2 separate regions of the Homo sapiens genome follow, and region 1 is linked to region 2. The links come from fine-mapping of genetic effects on gene expression. A gene starts in region 2. The other region holds a variant in brackets. All regions are shown on one strand. Distances are from middle to middle. Region 1 overlaps PPP3CA (protein phosphatase 3 catalytic subunit alpha). Region 2 holds the start of PPP3CA (protein phosphatase 3 catalytic subunit alpha).

Region 1 (8,334 bases), 310 kb after region 2:
TTCATGATCTGGCCATATTGTTTATTGGAGAGAGCCAGAATATTTTCCCTTACTCAGCACATCATGACCCCTGAGTTCACAGGTCAGTTGAGGTAGGGAATTTTAAACATAGAGTAGTAATAGGACAATGTTAGACTGAAAGCATCATTGAATGGAATAACTGAAATATATATATACATGTATAGGAAGACCACCCTAAGGGGACTATTTGCCATCCCACTTTAAAAAAAAAAAAAAAAAAAGAAAAAGTCTTTTCATGGTCTCTTGTTCATTAATCATCTAAAATCCAAGCACAGAGAATTCAATTTTAGATGGTCTCCAGAGCAGAATTTGATGTATAATCTTAATTACAAATCATAGATAATTAATATTGTTTACAAAATCAGAATACGATTAGAGGTAGGGATCCTGCACACACCCTATTTTCCTCCCCAGTGTTCTGACCGAGAGACTAATTAATAATTCAAGGAACTTACAGTGAATGAGAACCCATGGTTTTGCTTAATTATCAGAACAGCTAGATCTGAGAACAGCTGTCTCCCACATGGATAGACACTTATTCCACCCATTTGCAGGTAGAATAGCTGGCAATAATAAGTCCTTCCCATTGGATATGTTGAAAGGTGCCTGCCATGGCATAGTTGCCACAAGAGAGGAAGAAATGGACACAAATGTAGGCTGTTTTCAGGGCAGAGGGAAGGTGGGAGGAAACCAGCTTGCTGGTTTTCACACACCCTCTGGGGAACACCCATGCACCTATGAGATGGGTTTGTGTTAGCATCACCTCTGAAAGATTACCCACCCAGGCAAAGAAAGTGACCCATATGTTTTCACTTTCTTGGAGTGGAGGGCAAAAAAAAAAAAAAAAAAAAGCAAAGACCTTTTTTCTAGCCATTTCAAAATTGTGTGTGTTGTACAAGTTTTCTTTCTCATGGAAATGTTGGCATATTAATTGATCCACACAATCAAATAGATTAGAAATGGTGTTCATAAAAGCCCTCTAAGGGAAACAGTAGAAATCTTTTTTTCAAAACCCTTCTGTGAAAGCTTGCTGTTACCACAAATTATAATAAAAGACCAAAACACATACCAGTTATCATCTATAGACTACCGTCCCTGAGCAAATTACTTGACTCAAACTGTTCATTTGGATTAGGAACATTTCTGTTATTATTTGAAAAGAATATTCTGTTGTATATCTATTAGAGGCAGTAGAATTAGACGATCTGCTTGTGTTAATGCTTTCTATAAAATCCCACATAATGAATAAAAAGGATAGCTTATCCATTTTACCTTGGATTATAAAAATCTTGACCAGGTGCGGTGGCTCACACTTGTAATCCCAGCACTTTGGGAGGCTGAGGCAGGCAGGTCATTTGAGGTCAGGAGCTTGAGACCAGCCTGACCAACCTGGTGAAGCCTGTCTCTACTAAAAATACAAAAAAAGTTAGCTGGGCCTGGTGGCACATGCCTGTGCCAGCTACTTGGGAGGCTGAGGCAGGAAAATCACTTGAACCTGGGAGGCAGAGGTTGCAGTGAGCCGAAATCGCACCACTACACTCCAGCCTGGGTGACAGAGCGAGACTCTGTCTCAAAAAAAAAAAAAAAAAAAAAAATTTGTGAGGTATTTTTTCTGTTTTATACTTCTTCCAATGTACCTCGGGAATTAAAAGAAAAAATAAAATGGGCTCATTGAAGTATTACTTTAAAACATTATTTTAAAATAATATGTTTATTTGTAACAATAATCTATGTAATTAATTTTTTTAATTTAGAAAATGTAACAAGTGGTAAGACTTACCCAGAAAAACCATGCATAACTTTCAAAAATAGTACTAAAATGCAAACCATGGTGCCATTGTCTCTTACTAAATCCAATTTAGCAGTTCTCTACTCTTTTCTCTAGAACTCATGAACCAACCAGAAGATGAAAGAGTATCAAGTACTCAAACAATCATCATCAAATAATTATGAATGATGTTGCAAGGCAGATAGGGAATTAAGAGACTTCTTAGTTTAATCACATCAAAGGAGAACTTTTGGAAAAGCAGTTTCCTAAAGTAGTTTTCCCAGCATGGAGACTGCAAATGAATAGAAGATGGTGATAAGGTACTTAACTCTTCCTCCCAATGCGTGGTCTCTGTATAAATAGAAAAGAAGGGGAAAGTCAATTGGAAGAGGAGGATAGGAACCTACCCCTCTCTGCTCAGTGATTTTCCAGTTAGCTTCTTACTCACCTCCCCTCTGGATATCTCGAAAGTTTTTCTTTGGCACTATGGGGACCTCTCAAAAATCACATCCTAGTATTGGTGGCCAAAAGCTTAAATTTTCAAATTTGATTTACAGATAAATCCTCTTAAGGGGGAAAAAAAAAAAATACTGATTTTGCTTACTGGAGTCTGTTGTATGTGTAAATGTGTAAAATCAATTACAATTAGATAAAAAATTACTGACCACTGAACTCTGTTTGAAAATACAGGTGCAACAGCTGCAGCCCGGAAAGAGGTGATAAGGAACAAGATCCGAGCAATAGGCAAAATGGCCAGAGTGTTCTCAGTGCTCAGGTGGGTGCATTCGTACTCTGTTTTTGTTTCAAATTGTATTATGTGTCACCTAATAAATACTTTAATACTTTCATCTGGTAATTTAAATATTTTACTAGAGAATATTTGTCTTTTTTTCCTTTTAGATTAAAAATTGAGGAAAATTAAATGAGAAATTGTCAGTTTCTCACTATTTTAGTTAAATTGCAATCTACTAAATTATTTCTGTTAAGAAAGTCTCGAATTGCATCACATTTTATTCCTCTATTTGCTATAGGACTTTAAAACATTGATTTCACGGTAGGTTGAATATCTTAGGAAACAGGAAAAGCTATTGTAATTTTTTTTGTTTTGTTTTTCGTTCTGGCTCGTGGTGAAAGATGTATTTATCAGACACATTTCACTAGATTTCTAGGAAATGAACATCAGCCATAAAGCTGTTCATGTGAATCTATGTTATTCTAATTATTGAGAGAAAAATTACTGTTTCAATTTCCATATAGTAGTATATTTTGTAGATTATGAATCATATTATTATTATTAAGCATTAATTTAGAAAACAAATATTTTCTTGAAGGAAACTCCAGTTATTTCTAAATAATACAATGTAACATTTCTCTTCAAAAGATTACTTTAAAATATGATATATTTATATGTAAGGAGTCTACAGTCAATTCAAAATGATACATATTAGCGAGTAAATAGGAACACCTTGGGAAATATTACATCTACAATTGGATAATTTAATAATCAAATTTTTTGCCAAATTTTTGCCCCAACTCTTTCTCATAGAGTATCGACACTGGCTCTTTTGATTTCTCCTCTTGCTATTTCTATCCTCTTCCTGGTACAGTCACTAAAGAGTAACTGAATGACTTAATGCCAAAAGAGGTAGCCATGAGAAGGATGAAAAGCATTATCATGCTCTCTCAGAGACACCACATCAAAGGCAGTGAGAACTCTGTGGTAGCCAGCACATTCACGACCAGCCATGTTCAAGCGGAAAATAGGGCATCATTGCTCCCTTCCGTTATTGAATGAGGCTACCTTTGCTCTATTGCTGTACGTTTCCAACTACATTTTCAGGGCTTATTCATTCATGCCATAAGTAAATATAGTGAAACTTAAAGCATTGATTATGTACCATGGAGAAAAGAAATAAGGCAATGTAGAGATGGAGCAAGTGGGAGATAAAGAACTTCTTTTAGTGTGTGGTCAACAAAAAACTTTCTGAGTAATGGTATTTGGGCAAGCATAGGTGACCTTCATGAAGAAATGAGGTAAGGGAGTTCAAGGCAAAGACAATAGCAAGTGCAAAGATACTTAAGTAAAGACAAAACTGGCAGTTTTGAGGACCACAAGGAGGCCTGTATGGCTAGAAAAATGTTCTGTGGGGACAAAGGCGTATATGAAGGTCATAAGCTTAATTGGAATTCTGAGTAAACACTTGTTTATTTATTGTGCCTCAGATTTACCAATAATGCTTTTATTTCTTATTCTGTCTGAAGTCTCTGAGGGAAAGTAAAAACAGCTCTAGAATTTCCATGACTATCCCGTGATAAATGGACTATTTGAACCCAGTGATGAGTGACTTGACTTAAAATTGCACATGTTAATAGAAAATAAAAGCAAGCTCTATATTATTGTTTTTCTATAATAAAAGCATCCATAACACATATGCAGAATATAGAGAGATCCTATCCAGAAAAAAGTAAGTTAAGCTTAGTAAATAATGATTGAGCATTAACTGTATACCATGCACTGAATTAGGCAATCTAGATACCAAATTGGAATGCCAGCCAGATAGACAATAAACTAACAAAAGAAAATAAAGTGGCCGGGCGTGGTGGCTCACGCCTGTAATCCCAGCACTTTGGGAGGCCGAGGTAGGCAGATCACAAGGTCAGAAGTTCGAGACCAGCCTGAGCAACATGGAGAAACCCTGTCTCTACTAAAAATACGAAAATTAGCCGGGCATGGTGACACGTGCCTGTAATCCCAGCTACTCAGGAGGCTGAGGCAGGAGAATCTCTCAAACCCAGGAGGCGGAGGTTGCAGTAAGCCGAGATCGCGCCACTGCACTCCAGCCTGGGTGACAGAGCAAGACTCCATCTCAAAAAAAAAAAAAGAAAAAAAAAGTGTGTGCTAAATAACTACATGAATAGATACCCTGCTGTGGCATTAGACAGGAAGGAACCTTGTGTTTCCTGACTGGAGTGTTCATAAAGAGGTTAAAATTGGAGGAGTGCTGTGAAGGATAGGCTGGATTCCAGGGCAGGGAGAGATGTGGTGAAGGCATTCCTGGAAGTGGAAAAATTATCAGGAGCACAGCCACACAATCCTAAGAGCACTATCAATGGCATCCTTTTATGGGGCACTTGCTAAGTGCCAGGTTCATGCCCCATGTTATGCACATTTGACAATCATCGACACAGGAAGCTTGCAAGGTTGTGGTGACTTCACTTT[G/C]CTGTGAGGAAATTGAATCTGAGAGAGGCTAAGCAGAGTGTCCAAACTCCCTCAGTTGGGGAGCAACACTAATGAGAGTCTTACTCAAAACTGTGCTATGTAGTCTAGTATAAATTCTTAGCAATACTAGTAGTCTAGTAATGAATTCTAAATGTATTAAAGGACTGACTAGCAAAAGACATGAAGGTGAGTGAGGAATCTAGTTTAAAAGGAGACTGAAAATATACTGAAGTCCATATCCTTGAGTGTTTTGAATAGCATGTTAAAACATTTAATTTTTGTGTGTGTAGGCAATCAGGAGTTGTAGAATTATTTTCGTGAGATTAGAGGCATGCTCTAACCCATGTTTCACTATACATGTTAATTGCAACGTGAAGATTGGCTAGCAAGGTGACGTATGGATAATGAAAAAAGTGAATAAATATAAAATAAAATGTAAATTAAAAAAAAAAACCATTTAGGAAGCTTTTGAAGTAATCCCAGCAAAAGGCTGGACCAGGCTATGGGGAGAGAAGTGCAAAGGAAAGGACAAATACAAGGAATTTGGGAAAACAGGACGTGATTAATGAATGTGGAATGTGGTACAAATTTGTCAGGTATACTTGCCCAACATGTTTCTTACGTTTTGGAAATGTGCAACCTTATAAGGGAACCAGAAAACTGTCTTTCAGCAGTCCTTGCAGATAAAATACAAGTCTGTTGCCTAGGGTTTGCCAGTCAGATAAATGCATGTAAGCAAGGCTTTGTTTCAAATTGAGCATCATGAGGAAGCAGCAAGGCAGGACAACAATTGTCCTGTCAGGTGTGGAATCTCATGGGCCAGCAGTGGAAGAGCTTCCACCTCAGCATTTTGGGAGCTAACTACACAGCATTAGTATGAGCTCTGGCATTGGCTGTGAACATCAGTGGCAAGCCTTTCATGGAGCCCACCCCACAGTATGAACAAGTACTGTTACCCTTCCCAGCTACAGAGCATCGAAGCCCAGTTCTCTGGATCTGTGAGCTCTCTAATACCTTTAATATATCTCTTTCCTGTTAAAATTAGCCAGAATAGATTTCCGGTGTTGGCTGTGAGAACCCTTACCTATATGAGAGGCTACAAGAGAGAGGAAGTATTCCAGAATATTCTACAGGGGTTCCAGTCTATGCCATTGATAGGATGCCATTGTCTAAAGAAGAGGAAGTACTTTTCAATTTAAATACCTAACAGGTATTTATCGGGAAGAGTAGGATGCACTGAATTTGGCAGAGCATTTATGTAGAGGCACTTAGAAATTCTGCCCTGGAGGTTCAGAGAGAGGCGAGGGTTAGAAATGTGGACATAAGGCTGGGTGCGGTGGCTCACGCCTGTAATCCCAACACTTTGGGAGGCCAAGGCGGGTGGATCATGAGGTCAGGAGATCGAGACCATCCTGGCTAACATGGTGAAACCCCATCTCTACTGAAAATACAAAAAAATTAGCTGGGCGTGGTGGCAGGTGCCTGTAGTCCCAGCTACTCAGGAGGCTGAGGCAGGAGACTGCCATAAACCCCGGAGGCGGGGCTTGCAGTGAGCCGAGATTGCGCCACTGCACTCCAGCCTGGGCAGCAGAGCAAGACTCCATCTCAAAAAAAAAAAAGAAAGAAAGAAAAAGAAATGTAGACGAGAGTAAACAACACAGAGACAAGAGTACAGCAATGTAAGCTGATGGTCTTGCTAAAGGATAGCGTGAAAAGTGAGAGGAGAAAAATAAAGAATTCTTCAGAACATTGCTTTCCAATAGAAATAAAATGTGAGCCACATCTGTCATTTTAAATTTTCTAGACACCACAGTAAAAGGGGTAGAAACAGAAACTAAAGAAATTATTATAATACAGTCTGTTTAACACAAGTCTCCAAAATTTTATCACTTTGACATTTGATCAATATAACACTTATTAAAGGGACATTTTCTATTCTTATATTTGTACTACATCTTTGAAATCCCATGTGTATTTTACACTTACAGCACATCTTAATTCGACTAGTCATGTCTCAGGTGGTTAACAGCCACATGTAACTGGGGCCTACATATTAGAAAGCACGGATCTGGAGATAGAAGAAAAAGATCAGCCTAGGAACTGAAAAGATGTCAGAGAAGGAGAAGGAGAAGCAGGAGAAAAAAGCATTACAACACCTAGGGCAAAGAGTCTTTCAGGACGGAGGGCATGGTCATCAGAGGAAATTACTGCAGAGATATCAGTTTGAATGAGAATTCAGCAGAGATAGTTGGAATTGAAAAATGAAGAAGCTGCTAGAAACCTTTGAGGGCATGGCTTCCGTGTGAGGCAGGAATGGCAGTCACAATTAAGGGAAGTAAGGAATGTGGTTGAACAAGAAAGAAAAAAAGAGCAAGGAAGGAAGGAAAATGACCATCTTCTATGCTGGGGCTTTTGTAACAGTGTATCATTTAATCTTCATGGAAATCCCATAATTACAGTTGTGATTTTATAGATAAGGAAACTGAAGCCCAAGAAAGTTAAATGATGTCCCAACATCAGTCTTATGACTGAGATGTTAGCCTGAGTGTGACCCCCACAAAGATGTGATTTCCCAAAAAGATCTTCCTACTGTTGGTACAAAATTAAAATTTTGAAGATTAAAAAGAATACTTCAGATTACCAGAAGAGTTTTGTAGGTAAAAAGCTAATAATTTACTTGGCTTTCTCAGAGCATTATGGGTTGTAATTGTTTTTTTTGATGAGTCCCATGTTTTTGGGGGGGTTTTGTTTTTTTGTTTTGTTTTGTTTTAAGACGGTCTCGCTCTTGCGCTCTGGCTGGAGTGCAGTGGCACGATCTCTGCTCACTGCAACCTCCACCTCCTGGGTTCGAGCAATTCTCATGTCTCAGCCTCCCAAGTAGCTGGGATTACAGGAGCATGCCATCACACCCGGCTAATTTTTATATATTTTTTAGTAGAGACGAGGTTTCACCATGTTGGCCAGGCTGGTCTCAAACTCCTGGTCTCAAGTGATCTGCCCACCTCTGCCTCCCAAAGTGCTGGAATTACAGGTATGAGCCACGGTGCCCAGCCTGAATCCCATATTTAATACAGGATTTGACACCAAGATTTTGTATGTAGGAATTATAATCACTCATGAGGCAAAAGCCATATTTTGAATATGAATGTAAAAGAAAATTGTGTTCGTTCTTTAGAGGTACTCCCAATTTTCCCAACTCATATTATCATTCAATGTATTTCTTCATGGGACCTCTAGTGGTTTGACAGACCACAGAAGCTTAAAAAGTTTGAAATACATGCATGAAAATAAACAATAATTAATTATCTCAAACCTATTATTTTTA
Region 2 (8,334 bases):
TAGCATATAATTCCATAAATTATAGTTTAATCCTAATGGGAAAAAATTAAATTTATTCCTGAATACATTTGATACAAAAATTTTTAATGTTCCTTGAAAAATAACTTCTTTAAATGGGTAAAACTGCCTTCTGAAAGAAACAAGGCTCAACAAAATTTCAAGAGCAATAAAAAAATAGGTAATAAAACTTCCTTTTAGTTTGAACCTCAAATTAGATCTATGTAGAATAGCATATTTCATAGAACCTCTATGGAAGTAGGGTAGAACTAGAAAATGTGAGAAGGAAATGTCACAGGAATTAGCTTTAAGATAATAAATCAAAGTCTCATATACATTCATGGCCCTATCAGGATTGACTGTCCTACTTTGCAGGTTCCTCAGCATTGTGCTCCACTAACTTAAGTGAGGATAGAGCAGACATACTGCTGTCTACCATCAGCTACTCAGAAAAAAGTGAATGCCTCAGAAGAGTCATAATCAGAAGTTTTTTTTTATTTTTATTTTTTTTTGAGATGGAGTCTCACTCTGTCACCGAAGCTGGAGTGCAGTGGCATGATTGCAGCTCAATGCAATCTCTGCTTCCTGAGTTCAAGCAATTCTTCTGTCTCATCCTCCCGAGTAGCTGGGACTACAGGCACACACCACCACGCCTGGTTAATTTTTGTATTTTTAGTAGAGACGGGGTTTCACCATATTGGGCAGGCTGGTCTCGAACTCCTGAGCTCGTGATCCACCTGCCTCGGCCTCCCAAAGTGCTGGGATTACAGGCGTAAGCCACCATGCCCAGCCATAATCAGAAGTTACTACTCAACCGTAATGTCCAAATGATAATAAATTCATCCAAGAACCAAATACAAGTTCAAAATTTTGAAAGCCTGTTATTTTCAAAACAGAATATAACATACAATATTTTATTTTATTTTTAAAACTAAAACATCTGATAAAGCACTTAATAGTATACTAAAATGTACTTAATTTACTGTGATTTGCACCAATGGAAGCTTGCTCTGTGGAGCACTTAAATGCACAGATGACTCCAAATCCACAATATTTTCTTTTTTTGCCCACATATTTATCTTCATAATTACTTTTGATAAATCTAATAGTTTTTCTTCTCCAATAGAAAGAGGAAGTAGCACCTTATACATAAATGTTTGCAAATATAATATATATCTAATGATCATATAACAAGACTTTTAAATCCTTGAATGAAGGAACAAAATCTCTGAATCCTTCTTTACTCCCTACATTTTATGCATCATGTAGCATAGGGCACAGAACAGGTGTGGTCAAAGAATATTCATTAACAGAGAATTAAGATTTGATGCTCATGTATTAAAAGAAGTAAGAGTATTTTTAGTCTTCTGGTAGTTCTCTTATATTACAGTAAAACAATAATTCTAGGTTTTGCTAAGGAATGTACTTTTGGAACTAACATATTACTTTCGTATATTAATTTGGTAATATTAACTAGTCTAACAAACATATCTCCACATTGTAATGGAGTAACACAATAAATGAGTAAAGCCTAATGCCTATTTTCTTAGTAACTGGGTAGTATTCCTCTATGTGGTAATTAAGGGACTCTCGTCTTTGTCTCTGGGGTTCTGCCTGCCCTGGGTCTTAGAAGTCTCTGCATTCCGCTAAGGATGGGAGCCCATAGACTAGAAAATGTATATCTACTGCTTAACTGCCTTGTCCTGAGAGTGACCAACCATCTTAGTCCACAGTCCATTGATCAGAACTGGTCACATGGACCTTCTTCGAGGAAAGAAGGGTCAGGCTAGAAATGGGAATCCCTCTCTGGGCAGACACTTCCCAGAGTGAATTATACTAAGGGAGGGAAAACACATTTTTTTGGTAGACAAAAAGTTGTCTTTTTTCAAGCTTTTCCCCCCTCCTATTTCTTGATAAGCAGGACATTGCCAAAGTCAGCATCTGGGAACTGAAGTAACCCCTTCAAAATGTAAATTCCAAATATAAAGTATTCTCATGCAAGCAGTAATATAATTATGGACTGCTAGGGCAGTCTAACACGGAGGTTCCCAACCCCTGGGCCACAGAACAGTACCAGTCTGTGGCCTATTAGGAACTGGACTGTACAGCAGGAGATCTGCAGCAGAGTGAGCAAACATTACTGCCTGAGCTCTACCTCCTGTCAGATCAGCAGTGGCATTAGATTCCCATAGGAGTGCAAACCTTACTGTGAACCGTGCATGCAAGGGATCTAGCTTGCCCGCTCCTTATGAGAATCTAATGCTTGACGATCTGAGGTGGAACAGTTTTATCCTGAAACCACCCCCAACCACCATCCATGGGAAAATTGTCTTCCGCGAAACCAGTCCCTGGTGCCAAAAAGGTTGGGGATCTCTGGACAGGACAGAAAAAGAATGGCAGTAGGAGAGGGTAGGACATCTGAAACAGTAACCGAATAAAAAAGATGATCTGTCTGTCTACTTCAGGAGGTCAGGTGTATGAACACAAGTAGTCCCTAGTTAATATGCTGCCGTCCTGTTTCCTTAGAGCAGGATCCAATTTTGTTTAAGAGGTGTCAGTGTTGCAGCAGTTATGGAATCATACACAGGCATTAAAAGTTCATGTTGATAATGTGTTGGGAAGTGATTGTGAGTCATAACTTTTTCTTCCCATACATACCTTAGCTAGGAGGTGTCCTAGACTTGTAGCGGACTAAAGGGTGTGCCTGAAAGGTGTGCCTTTATTTCCTATCTGTATCATGTAATTTTATATGGTGCTGACATTTTAAGCCTTCTGATCTTGGTTCAAAGATGTTTATCCTATACCTAGTAAAAAGTTATTCCAAATAAAGGTGGGAACTTCATTTTTTTCTAATATGTAGGAGAGAATGTCTTGGCCTTGGAAATGAGCATCCCTGGACATGGTTTCCTGGTCTTTCTGAAGCAGGCCCTCTTCACCCACAGGTCTTGGCATCGCTCCCTGTGTGCCATCTGGCCAGGGACCAACTTCCCAAATCTGCCTTAGCAACTAGCTCTGCCCGTGCTCAGGAGGCTGTTTCCAACAACCCCTTCCTGAGATTACAGTGACCTCTCAGAGCTCATAATTTTATGTTCTCTGAAAATTTTAGGCTTTATTGAGGGCAAGGACAATTTTCAAATACACTCCCTCCCCACCTAATTACCCACCACAAAGTCTGGCATATAAATAAAAGGAGTACAGAAAATATCTTTATTGAATGAATTGTCTAATTGCCACCCAGTATCCTGGGGTTGGAAATTGGGCAGCAGAATCTCAGTGCCAGTGGCAGCCTCCCTATCTTGGTGGGACACACCCTGCGTCTGCTCCTTTTGCTAGGCCTCCACAGAGGTATCTAGTGTGTGTTTCTATTCCGTGCAGTCCACATCAAAGTCACGCTGCAGCACAATCAGTCTCTTACTCAAAATTGATTTTCAAGTTTGAGCTTTAATCTAATCCTTGTCTCCAAAACATTTCTTTTGGCTTCATCTCCCAGCTCCCTAAACTTTTTTTTTTGTTTTTGTTTTCTTTGTGTGTGTGTGTGTGTGTGTGTGTGTGTGTGTGTATTTTAAACCTTTTATTGGACCCGTGGTCCAATTGAGGAAATAGGAAAAACCTGATACTGAAGGACTTTGGAAATAAAACAGGAAACATGAAGGGTGAGAAATTTATTCAGATTTCTTCATAATTCCCCCCAAAAGCTCCAACCACGTTGCCAGTCCTTGGGTGCTGCAGTTGGTCGGGGAGAGGGGCTGTGTGGAGGTCACCTTCTGGTAGACGGAGACCCGCTTTTCAGACTCTGTGGCGCAGCAGGCGGGCCAGGAACATTTGGGCCACTATTGCTCTTAGCCCTGCCGCGCCTGACTTTCTCTCCTCTACTTTCCTTCCGACCGTAGGGACAAGTGTGGGGATCCGCTTTGGGCTCCAAGGCCCTGCCCGCACTGGCAGCACCAAGCGGGTGTAGAATGACTGGAAGGAGCAGGGAAGGAAGATGGGTGTCAACTGTCCCGGCCAGTGGCTGCGTGCATGTGTGTGTGAACAGGGAAAAGGCCACCCTCTCCCATGTTTCTCCCGTCTCCTCGGTTCTCCTCGGAGACCCGCAGGGCTGCCCGAGGTAGCTCCGAGTTGCCCTGGGTCGCTGGGGCTTGGTCCGCATCCTCCTCCGCTAGTCCGCTCCCGCGTTCCACAGCGCCCCGCCGCTCGGTGTGCACGCCTGGGTGGGACACAGTAACAGCCCCTAAGCCGCCAACGCAAAAGCAAAAACAACCGTACACCGCATCGCAGTCGTAGCTCTTCTCCGCAAGGTAAGTTGTTTATTCGTCGCCGTTTTGGCGATCCTCCCTGGACAGCTGCGGCAGCGACGGCAGCTGCGCCGCGGGCGCCGAGCTCCCAGCCTCTTCCTTCCTCCGCCCTCTCAGGGCTGCCTCTCACCCCCACCCTCTTCCCTCCTATCCCCGCCTTCTCTCTTCTTGCCCTCTTGTGGGCCACGCACACACCCGGAGACACCCTCTGCACTTGGCTACTCACACTGCGGCTTAACCCAGCCGACAAGGCACGCTTGCCAAAGAGGCGCGGGTGTGTGTGTGCGGGGTCCGCGTTCGGAGGCCAAAGGAGGGTGGCGTGGTAGAGCCCTTCTCCTCCTGGCCGCGACGCCTTGCCCACTCTCCTGCCCTAATCTCGGCCTGCCAGCAAAAGTGACACCTGAGCAGGGACTGGTCCGTAGAGGCGGCAGGCCCGCTGGTCCGGCAGCTGGAAGAAAACAGAGCAAGGGGCGGGGACAATGAGGAGGAGCGGGAGGCGGGACAAGCGGGGAGGCCGCCACCTGGCACTGAGTGATGCGCCCTCTAGCCAATGAACGCGAGGAACTCCGGCGTCGGGGCGGGAGGTCGGGGGCGGGCTCAGTGGGGAGGAGGAGGCTGCAGGCGCGCAAGAGGCGGGGGCCGGGAGGAGGAAGGGGAGGAGGCGGAGGCGGGCGCGGTGTTGGCGGCGGCGGCGGCGGCGGAGGGGGGTAGGTTGTGCCCGGGACTGTGTCTGCCGAGCTCGGCGGCTGTGCCTTGGTGAGTGGAGGAGCGGCGCGGGGAGGCAGAGGCGAGCGCGGGCGATCGCGGCGGCGGGACGTCTCCGGCGGCCGCGGCACCAGCGGCGGCGCTCTGTGTGGAGAAGCAGGGGCAGCGGCAGCAGCAACAGCGGCAGCGGCAGCAGCAGCGGCAGCAGCGGCGGCCGCCTCTCCGCCGCCGGGGACGCCAAGGTGCGGCTGGTGGCACTGACATCGGCGGCCCTGCCTCTCCTCCCTCGCCCCCGGCCTTCCCCATGTGATCGGTCTTAATCCTGGCCGTGTGTGCGCGCGTGGGGCTCCATTCCGCGGTGCTGGGTCTCCGTGCCGGGGTGGGTGCTCGTGTGTGCGCTTCTCCTCCCCATCCCCCTTCCCCCAAGAATAAAAGAAGAACCGGGAGGCGTGCTCAGAAAATAAATAAATAACCACCACACACGCGCAGCCCGGAGCGAGTCGGCGGGGCTGGCGGCAGCGGCGGAGGAGGAGTGAAGGCGGCGGCGGCGGAGGAGGGACGCGCGGAAAAGGCAGCAACTTTAAAGCCAGCTCAGAGCCTAGACCTCCAGCCGAGCGGTTTGCAGCGCGGCGGCGGCGGCGGCGGCGGCGGCGTTGAGTGTCTGGCCCGCCGGTCCGGTCGGGGTGTGCAGTCGGACGGACGAGCAGCGCGTCGCTGTCCTCCGGCAGCTGGAGATGTCCGAGCCCAAGGCAATTGATCCCAAGTTGTCGACGACCGACAGGGTGGTGAAAGGTAAGCGGAGCGCCGCGGTGGCCTGGGTGCACCGTGTGCCGCAGGCGCCAGGGCAGCTTGCCTCGCCTCGCCTTTCCTCCCCTCCCCCGCCCCAGGTTCTCCTCTGTCCGCTCCAGCCGCGGACCTTCTAGGATATTGTGCAACCCGCGAACCCCGCGAACCCCCCGCCCCCGCGGCGCCCTTCCCCCACGCGTCCCACCCAGCCTCACTTGGGGCATTTTTATTGACGGGGGCGTCAGTTGGCAAATGGCTGAGCCGCGGGGAGGTGGCGGCGGGGGTGGCGGTGGTGGGAGGGGGCGCCCGGGGGGTGGTTGCTGGTAGGGTGTAGCTGCTGTGACAGAAATAGGAAGTGGGTGGCTCTGCTCACAGGCTTGCATGGGATCGGGTTTATGGTTTTCTTCTGCAGAGGGAGGGGTGATTGATGGCTTTTTAAAAATTAATACGGCATTTTTATGTGGCCGTGGCTTTCCACCGACTGCCTCACTTGGGCAGGGTTGTCTTGGAGCTCCATTGCAGCAATTCCCTCCGCGCCCCCCTCCCCCTCCCCCTCCCCCTGGAAGGGCCTGCACAGGACTCGCGAGAGAGCGGGAGAGCGTGGGGGGAGCCCGGCGCTTCCTTCCGCGCGGGGCGGGGGCGGGGGCGGTCGCTGGCTGGAGGGTGGCCGCGGGGGGCGCGGGAGGCGGGGAACGACCTGAGAGCACCAGCCGTTGCCGCCCCGGGATTTCCCCCGCACGCCCCGGGGAGAGACACGAAAACCACTTCTCCAGCCTCTCTTGCCATCCCCGGCTGTCCCCCGCCGACCTGTCATTGCTCTTAAAGGGTTCTCCACTCGTGCACACCTCCCAAGTGATAACCTCATTCCGCCTGCTTCCTCCGTGCCCTGGCATCCTTTTTGTAACGGGCTGTTGGATTCCTATTATTGCCTCCTCTTCGCCGCCTACGGGATGATAAACTCCTGGCAAGGATGCACTGAGGTTGCTGGCAAAGAGAAACTGGGATGTGCGGAGTGAGGAAGGGGACAGGCTGTGGTTGATCACTCTGTCGCACGGGAATCTATCGGCCTCCTTGTATTCCTAGGTGTAGTGGGGGAGGAACCATCCTATGAATCCTGGAAGGCTGAGGCAACAGAGCAGAACCACTTGGATTAAGTAGTATCTCACATTCCTGGGGGTCAGGACACCAAGCAAAGCAGAGATGGGCATGAGCTGTGCGGGGAGCGGGCCTCTGAAATTGGAAACAGCACTGGCTGGTGTAATGTGTGTGTGTTGTGTGTAGAACAGAGATGGTATCTAATGTGGCCAGAGCATGCAACTAGAGTGCAAGGCAATCAAGTCGTTTGCACCATGAGCACTTAAAAGTGAAGTAACCCAGCAGCCCAAAGACCATGATACACAAGTCCCTCTGGGGTTTCAGAAATGATTCTTTCTCCTTAGAGGTTTACTCAGTTTTTAAAGTAATTTTTCTGTGTGAGTGGTGGTGGTGATGGGGGAAATTACGTTCCCTTTTTTCAGAAAGAACAAAATATCTTCTTTTGTTTTGGTTTTACTGGAATCATTCCTGCTTCAGCTTCGGTGCAGGATTCATATACCCATGAAAATAATGAGGAAATAGCTCTGCAAAAATGATTCGAAATAGGGCTGCAGAGAGATGCACAGCTATTTTATTTTTCCTGCAGGCATGGATTTTCATGGAAACAGTCCATTCACATTTATTTGAGAGAGCTGTGTTTTGCATGAAAGGCTTCTGTTGACATTTTCAAAAATTGAGACCCTTTGCAGAAATATCAGAGAATGACAATTATCTCCTTAATGTGTGAAGTTTAGATGTAGCTCCAATCTAGGTTAAGATCAAAACAATGTAAAGCTTATAATTCAAATGATACTAGTGAACGTGTTGGCAATTAAAAAAACACTTGTGCACACATAAGGTCACATTCCCTGTTTTAAATCATAGGATGTGGATTCTTAATGTAGGTGTAAAGTCATCAGGTGAACATGTAAAAATAAATGTTTATACTTTCTGGCTTAGTTTCTCTACTGCTTAAAATGGAAGAGCCCACTCAACCATTCCAAGGCTACTTTGCCTTGCTTTTTTTCAATACTGTACCATTATAAATGACTTTTCATTTTAGGTACACACACTCACCCATAATTTAAAAAATTTTATTCACATACTATGTGGATAGTAGACTCAAAATAGGAAAAGTTAATTTTGCATTTGTTTTGATAGAGATCCTGATGTGAGATGTGAAATGTGAAATTTTGTTTATAGAAGTTTTGTTGATGAATCCTGATTTTAAGGTGGATACACTGTTATTGTTTATCCTGTTTTCTTGTAGAATATTATTGGCATGAAAGGCATTATACAAGGTTGGATTCAACCTTTTGTCATACATAAGATTTTTATTATTAGTTATTTGAGATAATCTATTTTGATTATTAGCTTTCTGTGAAATAATATTTCCCCTTGAGTATGTATACACGTACTGAATGAATGGAAAGTACGCGTATGCTGGATGTGAAACATATTAACAAGTGATTTAATT

The links. PIP is the estimated chance that this variant, and not a neighbour inherited with it, causes the effect.
Region 1: its variant is fine-mapped to the expression of PPP3CA in whole blood (TOPMed, PIP 0.97).

What each region holds. Positions count from the first base shown.
Region 1 is chr4:101,034,712-101,043,045 of GRCh38, reverse strand. It overlaps PPP3CA (protein phosphatase 3 catalytic subunit alpha), which reads left to right. Exons shown (of 14, transcript NM_000944.5): 11 at 2,480-2,564. Among named protein-coding and RNA genes, the nearest start is that of LINC01218, 160 kb to the right of the region's middle. RefSeq lists an enhancer at 1,747-2,366. The variant G/C (reference allele first, on the strand shown) is at 5,010.
Region 2 is chr4:101,344,194-101,352,527 of GRCh38, reverse strand. It overlaps PPP3CA (protein phosphatase 3 catalytic subunit alpha), which reads left to right and starts at 5,002. Exons shown (of 14, transcript NM_000944.5): 1 at 5,002-5,789. The coding sequence starts at 5,732. PPP3CA-DT (PPP3CA divergent transcript) reads right to left here and starts at 4,751. Exons shown (of 2, transcript NR_033874.1): 1 at 4,519-4,751; 2 at 3,645-4,204. RefSeq lists silencers at 4,767-5,376, 5,847-6,206, 6,227-6,616.